2 separate regions of the Homo sapiens genome follow, and region 2 is linked to region 1. A link means that fine-mapping ties the variant in region 1 to the expression of a gene that starts in the linked region. Tissue or cell type: whole blood. Region 1 holds a variant in brackets; the other region holds the start of a gene. All regions are shown on one strand. Distances are between the middles of the regions.

Evidence for each region. PIP is the estimated chance that this variant, and not a neighbour inherited with it, causes the effect.
Region 2: TAS1R3 starts here. The variant in region 1 is fine-mapped to the expression of TAS1R3 in whole blood (TOPMed, PIP 0.95).

The regions. Positions count from the first base shown.
Region 1 is chr1:1,427,178-1,434,947 of GRCh38, reverse strand. TMEM278 (transmembrane protein 278) reads right to left here. Exons shown (of 2, transcript NM_001146685.2): 2 at 4,693-7,394. The coding sequence ends at 7,161. LOC107985729 reads right to left here and starts at 1,715. Exons shown (of 4, transcript XM_017003066.2): 1 at 1,660-1,715; 2 at 877-985; 3 at 546-752; 4 at 1-412. The coding sequence starts at 1,715. LINC01770 (long intergenic non-protein coding RNA 1770) reads left to right here and starts at 375. Exons shown (of 2, transcript NR_125996.1): 1 at 375-760; 2 at 4,286-4,791. RefSeq lists enhancers at 285-344, 1-347, 1,836-2,579 and a silencer at 205-499. The variant G/A (reference allele first, on the strand shown) is at 3,710.
Region 2 is chr1:1,327,802-1,334,646 of GRCh38, reverse strand. TAS1R3 (taste 1 receptor member 3) reads right to left here and starts at 3,367. Exons shown (of 6, transcript NM_152228.3): 1 at 3,111-3,367; 2 at 2,709-3,009; 3 at 1,841-2,623; 4 at 1,523-1,726; 5 at 1,268-1,388; 6 at 1-1,141. The coding sequence starts at 3,301. The coding sequence ends at 183. It overlaps CPTP (ceramide-1-phosphate transfer protein), which reads right to left. Exons shown (of 3, transcript NM_001029885.2): 3 at 5,751-6,845.

The DNA.
Region 1 (7,770 bases):
ACCCCCAGCAGGACTGGAGGGTCCCACTGGTGAGACAGGAGCTCTTGAGTCTTGGGGTCTTGGTGAGGCCCAGACGAGAGGTGGCTGGTTGCAGGGGGCGTCCTGAGGGACAGTGGCTCCCAGGGCAGATTTCCCCTGCTTGGGTGGGGCTGGGCCAGCAGTGTCCCCTGGACAGGAGAACCCTACCCCGGCCCTCCCTCGGAGTAGCCATGGCCCTCTTCCAGGGCCTCCTCAGCTCAGAGCTGGGAGGTGGGGGACGTGGGGGGGTGTCTGCCAGGATGTCTCCTCCTTCCCCACCCTCTCCTGGAGGATGCGCCGCGGGAGAACGGATGGGGCTCCACAGGCTTCCTTCCTCCCTTTCAGGCAGGTGAGACACCGCGGGGCCGTGCGGACGGCCAGCACTCGACTTTGCCTAAAAAAGGAAGCAGCAGGCTGAGGCTGAGGAGCTGGCGGCAGGAACAAGGGAGAGCTGTGTCCCCGCCGGCGCCCCCCACCCCCCCTGCCGGGGATCTTGGCAGTGGAGGTGCTGGCTGCGCTCCACAGACCTCAGACCTCGGCTGGGACCAGAAATGCCTGGTGCTTCCGCCTGGGCCCGGTGGGGGGACTTTGGGTCCCCAGAGTGCAAGCTGTACCACTTCGAGGGGCCTCGCCAGGCCCCCCAGCCCCCAGTACACAGGGGCTGCCGTGGAGATGACGCTGAAGGCCGCAGCCGCTGGAGGACCTGGGGTCTGACCGGAAGCTGGCTGCAGACCCTGCGGAGGCACGTCCAGGTAGTCAGGCAGGGAGCTGGGCCGAGGGTCCCCCACCCTGGGGAGGCTCACAGCCAGTGGCCCGCTTGTCCCCCACCCTCGCCCAGCAGGCGGGCCACAGTCACACCTCAGCCAGCCTTGCAGGGCTGACGGGGAAGTTTCCCTCACTTCTGGAAAAAGTGAGCGGGTCTTCTTGGCTGTGACTCAGGCCCTCAAGGAAGCGGCCGCCCTCCTCCCTTCAGCTCGCCATCAGCGGGAGAAGGCACAGGAGGCCTGGCCTCCACCCAGCCTGGGCCGAGCTCAGCCACCTGCCTTGCTCCCGGCTCTGCCTGGAGTCCCTCCAGCTAGGAGACCCTCCCCATCAGCTCTCCCCGTGCCCCTCAGTCTTCAGGACTCATTCTTGTGTCCTGCCCTCCCCCCGCTGTCTCCACCCCGGAGGAGGGACGTGGACAGAGGGTCCCAGAGAGCATGGGGTCAGCCAGAGGTGCAGTGTCAGGGCCCGGGCCGGACTTGAGGCAGACACCGGAGGAAGCACAAATATAACAGCCGGAACCCTCCACTCTCCAGGGAGAAGGGCCCGGGGTAAGAGGCAGAGGCAAGGACGGGTCAGGCCAGATCACAGTGGGTGCTGGCCCCGAGCCCTCTGCCTCCTGCAGGCACAGCCCCTGTCTGATCCTGGTGGCCTGGGGCCCCATGGGGTGGGGAGCAGCCTGGTTTGGCTGCGGCCACCCCGCCCCCACGGTCTGGGCCTGGGCTGTGGGAGTCCCTGTGCCTCACTTCCCGGAGCCAGCCTGCCCTGCCGGTCTGTCTGCAGGCAGGTGGAGAGAGTTCCAGGAAGCTGGGGAGGCTGCTGTCACCCGGGCACCGCCCCTGCCCCCACCCGCCTTTGGGAATGCTCCCTCCTCCGCACAATCCAGGCTTCTGCAGAAGATGAAGGGCCTTTTGTCCCCAGCTGGCTGTGGTCATGTTTGACCCTGGGTAAAAGGGCAACTCCTGAGGCCTCTGACCCCACCCCTGACCCGAGCTGAGGGCAGGACGCCCAGGCCCGCACCCGGCGCCTTTTGTTGCTGTTTTCACGTATCTCACAAACGTACTCAAGCACACACAGGAGCAGATGGACGGGGCGGTGAGGGGCAGCAGTGGTGAGGGGCAGCGGCGGTGAGGGGCAGCGGCGGTGAGGGGCAGCGGTGCGGGCCTGAGGCACTGCTCTGGGGTGTGCCTGAGCCCACCCCACAACAGTAAGTGGGGCAGAGCAGGGGTCACCAAGAGAGCAGGGCCCACGCAGCTCCTAGACTCAACCTGCTCACTGGGGTCAAGGACAGGTCTTGGGGGCCTCGGGGGTCACTTTTCACTTCCCAGGAGCCCAGGCCTGCCCCTCTGGCCCCAGAGCTGACCCCCCTCAGTCCCCCGTGCCAGCAGCAGCTGGGGTGGCGGGTAGACACCTGGCGGGTAGCAGCCTGGGTAGGGGTGGGAGCTGCACCATCTGCGTCTGTCCATCCATCCCTCGTCTGTGTGCTGGGCACAGCCGCGCCCCAGCCTCAGTGCTGGGGACACACAGGCGCCGGGCCAGCACTGCCAGGCTAGGAGGGTGGGCGGTGAACAGCTAGGAAAGATACGGTCTACTTGTTTTCCCTGTGAGAACAGGGGGTCACTGGGGACTCGCACGCAAGGGGTACCCGAGGAAGAGCCTTCCAGGCAGAGAGAAGGAACCGCGAGTGCTGAGAGCAGGGTGGGGTGGGCAGGAGGGGCCTGCGCCAGGACTGCAGGGGCAGAGCAGGCTGGGGGCCTTCGGGAGGGGTGGCCGGGTGGAGGGTGTTGCCGGCCTCGACAGGGGCAGGAGGTTCGTCACAGCGAGGACAGAGCCCGGCCCGGTGGGAGCCGGAGAGCAGCAGGCCTGAATGACCCAGGGTTTCCTAATAGCAGGGCCCCTTCCTTGTGTGGGTCCCCTCACTTTGCCTCTCTGCTGGGACATCCTTCCCTGAAAGGGAGAGGAGGACCACATGCTGCCCCTTCCCCAGACACAGTCCAGACAGGCCCAGGCCACAGCCCTGGGCAGACGCAAAACTCCCAGGGGCCTGGACTGGGATAGGGAGGAGGCAGCAGGGAGGGACTGACCTATGTCCACACACCACAAGGGACTCCCAGAGGCGGGTGGGGCGGAGCTGGGAGCAGGGGCCTTAGCCCTCAGACCAGCCCACTCACCCTGGGGAGTTCCTGCCCCACAGCCTGCCCAGCTTACAGGCCTGGGGGCAGGGGCAGGCCAGCACAGGCCGGAGGGACAGAGGGAGCCACATCTGAGGGGTCCCCCAGCTGCTCACACCGTCTGAGGCTGTGCTTGCCAACAACTCTGCTCCCAGGAAATATTTTGCAAATCAGGAAATGACACCGGGCAAGGTGGGAAGCCCACTGCATCCAGTGGGGTGGGGCCCCTTACTGCCTCCCCTGCTCCGGCATGACGTGTGACAGGGACGCAGATGGGACACACACAGCCACACACACACACTCCGGGCTCCCATTTGGGCAGGGCAGGGGCCTCAGCCACCGGGAAAGAACGCCAAGCAGAGGTCCCCACAGCCACCCTGCAGCTCGGCTGCACCCAAGGAGTTCAGGCCCCTGGGCCAGTGGAGAGCTGTGGTAGAGACTGCAGGAAGAGGGAGGCTGCTCCTGGCCCTCAGGCTGGGGGAAGGGGCTCTGGGGGAAGGGGTGTAGAGGCACCCTCAGGGTGGGGGCGGGCCTGGGGACCCAGGGTCCTGAAGTGGAGGGGTTTCGGTCAGGGACACCATGCTGGGCAAAAGTTGGGAGAGATTCATGGGGTCCAGGTGGGGTCCTGCCCCTGCAGGGGCTAGAAGGGCTGGGCAAAGGCCAACTGTATACCTGGGGCCTTGAGGAGGGGAACCCTGGCTGGGGGCCCCACCTCCCCCTCATTTCATGCCCCCCTCCTGGCTTCCCAGATGGTGGCC[G/A]ATAAGGGAGCTGCTTAGGATCCATGGAAGGGGCCAGGCAAGAACCCGGGGGAAGAACCCAGGGGCCTCAACGCAGGGCCCGTTCTGTCCTAGGGGGTGGGGCCCCTGCCTTCCAACGTGGGGCCTCTTCTGTCCTGGGGGTGGGGCCCCTGCCTTCCAACGGAGGGCCTCTTCTGTCCTAGGGGGTGAGGGGGTGAGGGGGTGAGGGGGTGGGGCCCCTGCCCCGGCACTCGGGCTCTGGCCTTCCTGAATCGCCCCTTCCTTGCTTCTCTTCCGCCGGCCAGGCCTCTGCTCTCCGGGGCTACGGCCTCCCACAGGCACGTTCCTACATCCCTCTGTGAACCGCCCACAGGCCCCCCCACAGGTGTTCCTCTGTGAGCTGGTCGGGCGGCCGGGGCCGGGGCCGGGCTTCGCTGCTCCGTGCCTTCCACCTCCCTGGCGGTGCGGGGCCTCAGGGTGGGCCTGGGAAGCTGGAAACACCTTTGGAAACAGCCGCCTGAGGCAGCTGTGGACAGAAGACCCTGCCCAGCAGCCAAGGGAGCTGGCCTCTCCGCTCAGCCTCCCCACCCCCACCAGGCCCAGCTGTTGTTTTCACGGCTCCGGGACCAGGCGGATCCTCAGCCAAGAGCTTCCCAGGAGAGCCCTCATCTTCAACCCCTAGTGGCGACCAGAGCCAGCCCGGGCAGGAGGGGAAGGAAGGCGGCCGCGGCCCCGGGGAAGCCATCCTGGCAGCTTGGCCACTGGCCCGGCTCCTGTCTGACCAGGAAAGGCATCAAAGCCGGACTCGGATGGAGGCTGGAAAACCCCGAGACTTCTGCTGGACTCGACCCAGCCACACACCAGGCTGTGCTCAAGGCCACGGAATGAGCCTTGACCCTGGCCCCAGACGGAGCCCAGACCTTGCTGGTCACAGGCTGAGCCCTGCTGGCAATATGATGTACTAGATCCCTTAAAAGGCCTTCCAGCAACAACCAACTTCTGGATGAATTACTATGAGCGTACATTTTTAATAGACTGTTGTGTTTCCAAGAAAGTAAATATCTCCGAGTCTCCCCCAAAATTAAACAGCAAAAATAAATAAGGCCAGGTGGGGTGGCTCATGCCTGTAATCCCAACACTTTAGGAGGCTGAGGCGAGAGGATTGCTTGTGCCTAGGAGTTCGAGACCAGCCTGGGCAACATGATGAGACCCCGTCTCTACAAAAAAATTTAAAATTAGCTGGGTGTGGTGGTGCACTCTAGTCACAGCTACTTGGGAGGCTGAGGCAGGAGGATCACTTGAGCCTGGGAGGGCGAGGCTGCAGAGAGCTAGGAGCTCACCACTGCACTCAGACTGGGCGGCAGAGCAAGACTCTGTCTCTAAGTAAACAAACAGACAGAGTAGTGTGGAGGCCTGGATGATGAAGGGAAGTGGTTGGGAAAGCAGATAACTCCCTGGACACACACAGGGACAGAGAGCCAGCCTGCGGCCAGGGAACAAGTATGTTTCTCTGCCTAGGGGCTGCTTAAACCAGGGGTCTCAAGGGTCACTGAGGGGGCCGAGGGTGGTCTCGCCTGGAAAAGGGGAATAGTCTCTGGAGGGAAGCATCCCCAAGTTGGACCTCAGAATTGTCTCCGATAACAGCTGACAATTAAACAACCAAACGTTCAGAGAAACACCATGCTACTGATGAGAATCGGCAGAAACACCAGTCACAGATTTAGACCCCCAAAGACTAGGACACTGGAATTATTTAGTACAGAATATAAAATAACTATATATGAAATATGTTTAAGAAGTGGAAACTGTAATCTAAAAAGCAAGCATGTATCAAGAGACCATAAAAAAAATCAGACAAATCTAAAACACAATCAGATGTAACTTTTAGATATGCTAACCTTTTTTTTTTTTTGAGATGGAGTTTCACTTTGTCACCCAGGCTGGAGTGCAGTGGCACCCTCTCAGCTCACTCCAACCTCTGCCTCCAGTGTTCAAATGATTCTTGTGCCTCAGCCTCCTGAGTAGCTGGGACTACAGGTGTGCACCACCATGGCCAGCTAATTTTTTTTGTTGTTTTTTTGTTTGTTTTTAAGATGGAGTCTTGCTCTTGTTGTCCAGGCTGGAGTGCAATGGCATGATTTCGGCTCACTGCAATCTCTGCCTCCTGGGTTCAAGCGATCCTCCTGCCTCAGCCTCCCAAGTAGCTGAGGTTATAGGTGCCCACCACCACGCCCAGCTAATTTTTTTTTTTTTTTTTTTTGAGACGGAGCCTCGCTCTTTCGCCCAAGCTAGAGTGCAGTGGCGTGATCTTGGCTCACTGCAAGCTTTGCCTCCCAGGTTCACGCCATTCTCCTGCCTCAGCCTCCCGAGTAGCTGGTACTACAGGTGCCCGCCACCAAGCCCAGCTAATTTCTGTATTTTTTAGTAGAGACGGGGTTTCACCGTGTTAGCCAGGATGATCTGGATCTCCTGAGCTGGTGATCCGCCCTCCTCGGCTTCCCAAAGTGCTGGGATTACAGGCGTGAGCCACCGTGCCTGGCCTGGATATGTTAACATAATAATTTAAGATAAAATGAATGAGTTAATCAGCAGATTAGACGGAAGGGAGTAATTTGATGAGGGGGTAAAAGAAAATGGTGAGGATATGGAGAAGGAATTCGTGGTGAAACTGGACACAATTGTTGAGGGATTTCCAGAGCTGATGAACGTTGTGGACCTGTGGCTTACACCAAACAGGGTGGGTGTGAGCTCGGCACAGCTAGGACGCGCTGGTGAGACCAAGGAACACCAAAGTCAGTGAGGAGATCTTAGTGTCTCCCGGAGAGAGCCGACCGAGGCTGGCGCATGTCTGAATGCGAGCCTGGCCATAGGCTGAGCCCGGCTGCCGCCACCCCTGGGCTTCTGGAACCCTGGGCTTGGCCGAGCGTGGGTGTCTCCCCTGGGAGCCCCAGAGCCCTGGACGATGGAGGCCGGGACCTGGGCAGGCGCGGGAGGCCTTGGGCTGGGGCCTGCGCCCCTCCTCTGAGGGCTGCCTGCCGGGCTCTGCCCTGCCCTGCCCTTCCCTCCCCTCTCTTCCCCTCCCCTCTCCTCTCTTTCCCTCACCTCCCCTCTCTTTGCCTCCCCTCCCCTCCCCTCCCCTCTTCCCCTCCCCTCCCCTCTCTTCCCCTCCCCTCCCCTCTCTTCCCCTCCCCTCCCCTCTCTTCCCCTCCCCTCCCCTCTTCCCCTCCCCTCCCCTCCCCTCTCTCCCCCTCCCCTCCCCTCTCTTCCCCTCCCCTCCCCTCTCTTCCCCTCCCCTGCCCTCCGTGGCGGGGGCGGGGCTGCGGGCGGGGGAGGCCGGGGTCGTAAGCCGGGAGCGCTGCGCGCCCAGCCAGGAAGGGGCAGCGGGGGCGACCCTCAGTTTTCCGGGCCGGGCCACGCGATGGGGTCGCGCGCGAGCTCGGAGGCCTCCCGGGGTTTCGCAGCGGCCGCCGGGTCACACCCAGGCGCAGAGTTGCTCGTCCTCGTCGGGGCGCCCCGGGGGGCGGCGGGGTCCGGGGGTCCCAGCGGGCGGAGGCAGCAGCGGGCGGAGGCGCCGGGCTAGGCGGGCGCGGACGGCCGAGGCGAGCACCAGCAGCGGCGGCAGCGAGAGAAGCCCGAACACGATGAGCGCCGCGGAGCCGCGGTCTGAGAACAGCGCGCGGCACCGGGGACCCGGAGCGGGGTGGACCTGGGGGCCGGGCGGGCCGTCAGTGGGGGGCGGGGCGGGGTAATGGAGGGCTGGGGGCAGGGCAGGGTGATGGAGGGGAGGGGGCTGGGCAGGGTGATGGAGGGGAAGGGGAGGGGTGGAGAGGGGAGCGGGCGGGATGATGGAGGGAAGGGGGAGAAGAGGGGAGCAGGGCAGGGTGATGGAGGGGAAGGGGCAGGGCAGGGTGATGGAGGGGAAGGGGAGGCGCGGAGGAGAGGGTGTGGGTGGGTCAGGGTGATGAAGGGGCGGTGAGGGCCGGACGGTGAGGGATGGATGGGCGGGAGCAGGGTGGAGCGGGGAGGGGAGAGAGAGCGGGGTGGAGGAAAGGATGCAGGGCCACGGCAAAGGGAGACGGAGG
Region 2 (6,845 bases), 100 kb after region 1:
GATGGTCACAGGGGTGTCCACGTGCTCCAGGCCTAGGGCTCACTGTGGGGTCAGGGTCAGGAGACAACCTGGGGTCAGAACCTAGAGCGGGAGGGTCTCTGTAGCGAGACACGGGTCATTGCTGGCTTGGGGGGGATCGCAGCTAAGTCTGGGTTCACCGGGGCTGAGATCACAGGGTTGGGTCACTCATGTTTCCCCTGATTTCCTGTGTTCCCGTCATTCTGGCCTTGGGCATCCCCAGGGCCCCCTCCCAGGAAGAACTCGGGGGTGTTGAGCCCTGGCTGCCGCATGAGCAGGTAACACCTGGGCAGGTGGAAGGCAGCCAGGATGCCCAGGACACAGAGCAGGAGGGCGCCCATCTGCACGGCGGGCCTGAGGACCACCTGCACATTGGCCAGGAGGGGCACAAAGGAGACCCAGGTGATGAAGTAGGCCAGCATGGCAAAGGTGAGGCCACGGGCACGGTTGTAGCAGCCCGGCTGGCTCCGCACCAGGAAAGTGCCCAGGAAGCAGAGAAAGGCCAGCGTGGCATTGGTGGCGTGCGCTAGGCCGAAGCTGACCCAGGAGCGTGTGCGGCAGTGCACCAGCGCCTCCGTGGGCAGCATGTGCCAGTCCGTCACCACCTCCGGCGGGAAGGCCACCAGGTACCAGGTGCACAGTGCGACCTCCACCAGCATGGCCAGCAGCACCACCAGCCAGGCCCAGGGCCCCCGCAGGCAGCCACTCAGCCGGTCTGCCCAGCTCAGAGGCAGTTCTGACTCCACGAAGATCTCGGCCGCCTGCAGGAAGAGTGTGCTCAGGCAGCCCGTGAGCGGGAGGTGGGACAAGGGCTGCTGGGCCAGGCATCGGGCAGGGCTGGGCTGGCCAGGGAACAGGAGGACGCTGAGGCAGACCAGGCCCAGGCACACCAGGCCAAAGCAGGCCAGGGGCCCCCCCGAGGCCTGAACCAGTGGGCTGTCCCGATGGTGAACGAACAGCCCCAAAGCAGCCAGCACAAGGCCCAGCGCCAGGCTCAGCAGCAGGAGCAGCAGCAGCACAGCCGGCTCGCCCCATGCCAGGAACCGAGACCTGCGGCGGAAGCAGCGTGTGCTTCGCTCCGGGGACCACTCATCCTGGCCACAAAAGGTGCAGGCGATGTCGTCTGTGAGAGAGGAGAAGGGCGCTGGGTGTTCGTCTTGTACCCTGTGGGCTCTGGTCTCAGAGTCAGGACTTGGCAGGACCCTCCCCTGCTGCGTTCCCACCCCCGCCTGCCGGGAAGGCGGCTCACCTGGGTTTTGCCGGTAGCTGCCCGCCTCGCAGTCCACACAGTCGTAGCAGCAGGAGTGGAACCCCTTGACCCGGCGCACCTGGCCCTCCTGGCACTGCCGCGAGCACCGGGACACGGGCTTCTGCGCACAGGCCTGGGGTCTGGCTCTGCTCGGCTGGGCATGCCCACGGGAGACTGGAACGGCCCCCACCCCCAGGCTGCGCCCTGCCGCGGGGGCTACCACGGGCACGCCTGGCACACCCACCCTCACCTCACCTGGTTGTCAGACGTGTGCCAGCGGATCTTCAGGCGCTCTGTCCTGAGGCTGCCGTTGAACCTGCCCACGTCGTGGAGCCTGGGCACTGAGCCCTGCCACACCCACAGCTTCAGGTCGTACTCCATGTCCACGTTTCCGCTGCTGTCGAACCGCAGCGGCAGCCCGCCCACGTGGAAGGTCAGGTTGTACATGTTCTCCAGGAGCTGCGGGCGGGGGACGGGGCTGAGCCGCCAGCCACCTCCAGCTCAGGCGTGGTGGCCGTGCCTGGTGGCCTGGGCACATGCAGAGGACAGCACACCCCCATCTCCCGGGCTCACCTGCCAGGGCTTCACGGGGTCCTGCGCGGGGCAGCCTGAGGCGTTGCACTGAAGAGTGTTGTGCAGGGCCTGGGCCACGCTATACACAGCTGCGTAGACAGAGAACGTCTGGTGGTGATTTAGCCCTGCGCTCACGTTCTGCAGCGTGATGCAGTCACACTGCGGGCAGCGCTGGCCCACCACGTCCTCCTCCAGACCCTGCTCCCTCTCGCCCAGGGCAGAGCAGAAGGCCGGGTCGGTGGCCAGGGCCAGGTGCGTCTTCACGTACTGGGGGAACTCGTGCAGCTGGGCACCCCTCTGGAGGAAGCCAAGCACCGTGCCCATCTGGGCCATGCCGGGCAGCCCCATGACCAGGTCAGAGGTCAGCCAGGCCTCGCTGGCCACCCACACCTTGGGCGAGAGCCTGCTGCTGATGCTGTAGTTGAAGAGGGCGTGGGCGGCGTGCACGGAGGCGAACAGCAGCACCACCTGCACGCTGCTCTGGTTCACCTGGTGCAGGACGTCCTGCACCTTCCCCAGCCGCGAGTCATCGGCACGGGGCAGCGGCACCAGGCCCTCGTGCGCGATGCAGATGCCGCGTGCCGCGGCCAGGGCCGAGAAGATGCTCAGGCCCTGCCGGCCGTACTCGTCGTCGCTGCCCAGGGCGGCCACCCAGTTCCAGCCGAACTCCTGCAGCAGCTCCGCGGCGGCCGTCAGCTGCACACGGTCGCTGGGCACGGTGCGGAAGAAGGAGGGGAAGGTCTCCCGGGCGCTCAGCAGCTCCATGCTAGCACCGTAGCTGACCTGCAAGGGCCAAGAGGCATCTCCTGACACAGGGGCTCCCACGGGCAGGGCTGGGTGGGGGTGGGTGATGGTGGGGGGCGCCCACCTGGGGCATGAGGAAGAAGCTGAAGAACTTGCCGGTGACCATGGCGAGCTCTGACGAGTGGGGCCCGATGACAGCCAGCACACGGGGCTGGTACTGCGTGTAGTTGCAGTAGGCGGCGATGTCGCGGCTGCCTGCCTTGGCCAGGAACATGAGGCTGGGCTTCATGGCCACCACAGGCTCCGAGCACGTATCAAAGAGGTCGTAGCCCAGGCGCAGCCCGGGCAGCAGATCCGACTTGTTGTTGATCTCCTCCACGGCCATTTTCATGGCCAGTGCCCAGAGCAGGCCGTTTGAGGAGAACCTGGGGCCACACAGAACCGCAGATGGCCACCTCGGCCCCAGCTCAGGAGCACCCCAGACCTGGTCACCCTGACCCCGACCCAGGCCGTCCCACCTCTGTACCTGGTGCACACAGGGCTGCTGGGCCGTGTCCGGCTGCGGAGGCCAGCCTCCTCGGCCTCGCCCAGGGGGAACAGCCCCCCCAGCACGTAGTCCCCCTTCATCCTAAGTTGCTGTGACAGGCACAATGGGGCCCCCGTCCCAGGGTGCAGGAGAGCCCAGAGGCTGAGGCCCAGGACAGCAGGGCCCAGCATGGCAGAGGCAACTTCCAACAGGCACGGCAGGTGGCTGCCCCGACTGGGGCCTCACATGGAGTGAGCCCGGGGCGGGGAGCGGGCAGAGGATTTGTTTAGCAAAACCCTTGCCATCCTCACTTGCCACACCCTGGGGCCCCAGTGGTGTCCTCGCTTCCTGGGCCTGAAAGTTTGTGCGCGTCAGACTCTGCCTGAGGCCACTGCCAGGCTCTATGGCCAGCGTTGACCGGCAGGCAGGCTCTGCTCAGTTGCTGGCCGTGGCCTTGTTCCCTGCCTGTGGCTGAGCCCCTTGCCACCCCCCGATTCCTGGAGTTGCCCAGCAGGCTGTGGAGAGGAGAGGGGGCAAAGGGGCCTCCAGGGCTCTGAGGTCTCAGCTGCGTGGGAGGGATGCAGAGACACCCAGCCCTGGGGCTTTTCATAAGCACAGAAATGCCTCCTACCCAGCCCCGGGAGCTTCTGGCTCCCACTCAAGGCTGTGCTGGCCGGAGCCGGGGGCAGCAGGGATGGGCCCCCTAGGCCTGCAGACCAGTCAGGCCAGTGGGCAGCCGGCCAGCCAGGCCTCCACCCTGCAGCTGGGGAGGGCCCTGGGGTGGTGGTGCTGCCCTCCCAGTCTGCTTGGGAGCAGAGTTCCTTGAGGGTCTCAGCCCTTCTGCCAGAGTCTGACGCCTGGAAGCTGTAGGAACCGCATGGCCAGCTGTACTCACACTGCTGACCCCCGTCTGGGCCACTCCTGCGTGGCAGGCACACAGGTGGCTCCTGCTGGGGGTAGAGTTTGTTTGCCAGGGGGGCACGCAAACAAGGGAGGAAGGGCCACAGGCAAATGAGCGGCAGCTGGAGCAGCACCAGGTGTGCAGGGCCGGGACTCCTCTGCCTCTGTGTTGCTTTGGGGGTGCCCTCGGGGACACAGCAGACTCCAGGCGCAGGCCCTCCCAGGGGAACTGGGGGGCACTCAGCTTCAGCTAGGGCCTGGCAGACCTAGCAGATACCAGGAGGTGTGCCCTGGCTGGTGCTTCTTCCCCATGGTGTTGTGAGGAGGACCTGTGAGGGACACACACTACCACCGCACATGCATATGGCACATGCTGAGCACACGTGAATATGGCGCACATGCGAACCTGGCACACGAGCACAGGAATGCGGCACACACACAAACGGCACATGCGCATGGTACACGCGAATGGCACATGCACGGCACACGTGCATGGGACACGCACGGCACACGCAAGGAACACATGCATGGCATGCAAACGGCACACATGCATGCCACACGTGCACAGCATACATGCAAATGGCACACGTGTACGGTGCACACGAATGGCACATGCGCATGGTACACACAAATGGCACACGCACGGCAAGTGCATGGCACACGCGCATGGCACACACAAAACGGCACATGCAAATGGCACACACACGGCACACACAATACACACGGAAACGGCACATACACAAATGCCACACATGCATGGCACGCAAGCAAACGACGTGTGGCACACGCGCATCGCACGCAAATGGCACGTGCATGACACAAATGGCACATGCAAACAGCACACACATGGTACACGCAAAGCACATGGCACGCACATGCGCACAGCATACGCTCACAGCACACACGGCATACACAAATGGCACACATGCACGTGGCACACGTGCACGGCCAACACGCAGCACATACGTGCATGGCACATACACGAAAACAGCACACGCTCACGGCCAACACGCATGGCACATGCAACTGGCACCTGCACATTGCACAGATGGCACACATGCACATGGTACATGCAAACAGCACATGCAAACGGCACACGTGCGGCACACGCAAATAGCACACTCGCACTTGGGACACGCAAACGGCACAAGCATGGCACTTGTACAGAAGGCAACACCCGGAGGGAGCCCTGCCCTGGGGCCCACGCAGACCCAGGCAGTTCTCCCGGCCCATACTGCAGTCGGCAGCCTTTGCCGGCACCATATGCAGCTCCCACAGACCCTGAGGTGGGGGTGACATCCAGGAAGACTCTGCTGAATTGCATCCCCTTTCTGTCCAGGCCACTGTTGTGGCTGGGAGTGGCCCCCACCTCCACGCACACATCCCACGCAGGCCTCTCCTCTTTTGCATGGAGAGGCGGATGTCTGCCCTCCCAACCGTCCTCCCAACCCAGCCTCTTGGTTCTGGGTGACTCTGTCTCTCTCTTGTCTCACCTGTACAACAGGCATAGTGATGGGACCTCTCTGGGAGAATGGGCACACAGCAGCCCTGCCTCCAAGGCTGGCCTTTTCTCAGGGTGTTTGTTGAGCCCTGGGGCTAACACAGCCCCCTGAGCCTGGCAGTGGGGCCTCAGCTCCCTTGGAGTTAGGTGCACCCACCTCAGCTGTGTCCCTGGGGTGAGGGCCCTCCCCACCCTCACTGGGTGCCCCTGTGTCCCCCTGCAGGAAATCAGGCACCCAGTGCACCCCAGCGTCTCCCTCCTGGGAGGCTGTGTGATTTATTAACGTTGGAAGACATCACATAGATTGCACTCTGGAAGCTCGCATGTCTGCTGGGCCGTGGGGGCCGTCCCTCTGCCACCCCGAGGTGCTGGGGTCCACTGTGAAGAGCCAGTGGCCAGGCCCCAGGCACTGGATGGTGGCTGGGCTGGTTGTGGCTGTCTGGTAGCCTTTGGCTGGGCCACAGGGTCCAGACCCTCCTGTTCCGTGCCCCACGGGTCTCCTGAGCACTGTGGGGAGGGGGCATCAAGGGGCACGGGGGAGAAGGGACACAGCATTTCACTGGGTGTAGCAGAGTCCCAGCTCCTGGGGGCCTTGGGCTGGGCTGGGCTGTGCAGACCCACGGCCGCTGCGGGAGGCGGCCTGCTGCGTCCCTCGGGGAACTGGTGCCGTGCAGGGGCTACGGAGGAGGCTGTCCCAAGGGCGGGGACTTCCTGGGCCCTTCTGTGAGGAGCCTTGGTCTCAGCTTCCGGCTGTCCTGCCCCCAGTCTGCCTGGCACGCTGAGGGGCAAACAAGGCAGGAGAGGCGGGGAGAGCCCCACAGTGCCCAGACTGCTGTTGAGGGTTTCTGCCAGCCAGGGCATGGAGGGCACTGAGTCCCCTGGGCTCAAGGCTGCCCACCTGGGCAGACACGGGGTCCCAGGCACGGGCCTGAGATGAGGACACATCGGCTGGCAGAAAGGAGAAAGGATGGAGCCTCCACACCCCGGGACCTGTGACTTCACCCTGGTTCGCAGATGCACCCCACAGGCTAGGGGGTGGCGACCTTTCGGGCTCTTGCAGGCCCGGCCCCCACCCCTGCCTGCTCTGCTCTGCACCGCACCCTGGCGAGGCCTGGCTGCGCACGCGTGTAATAGGCCGAGGGGGAGCCGTGGCCGAGGCGTCTTGTTCCGGACCGAGAGGGTGGGCCTCTTCTGGGCTGGTCGCCACCTTCTCTGTCACAGTCTGTGGTTCCTAACCAGCTCAGCTCACAGGGGCGACAGAGGATCTCCTGTTCCCGCAGCGCCCAGAAGGCTCTGCCACGGGACTCACGGCCCTGGCCACCGCAGCCCAGATC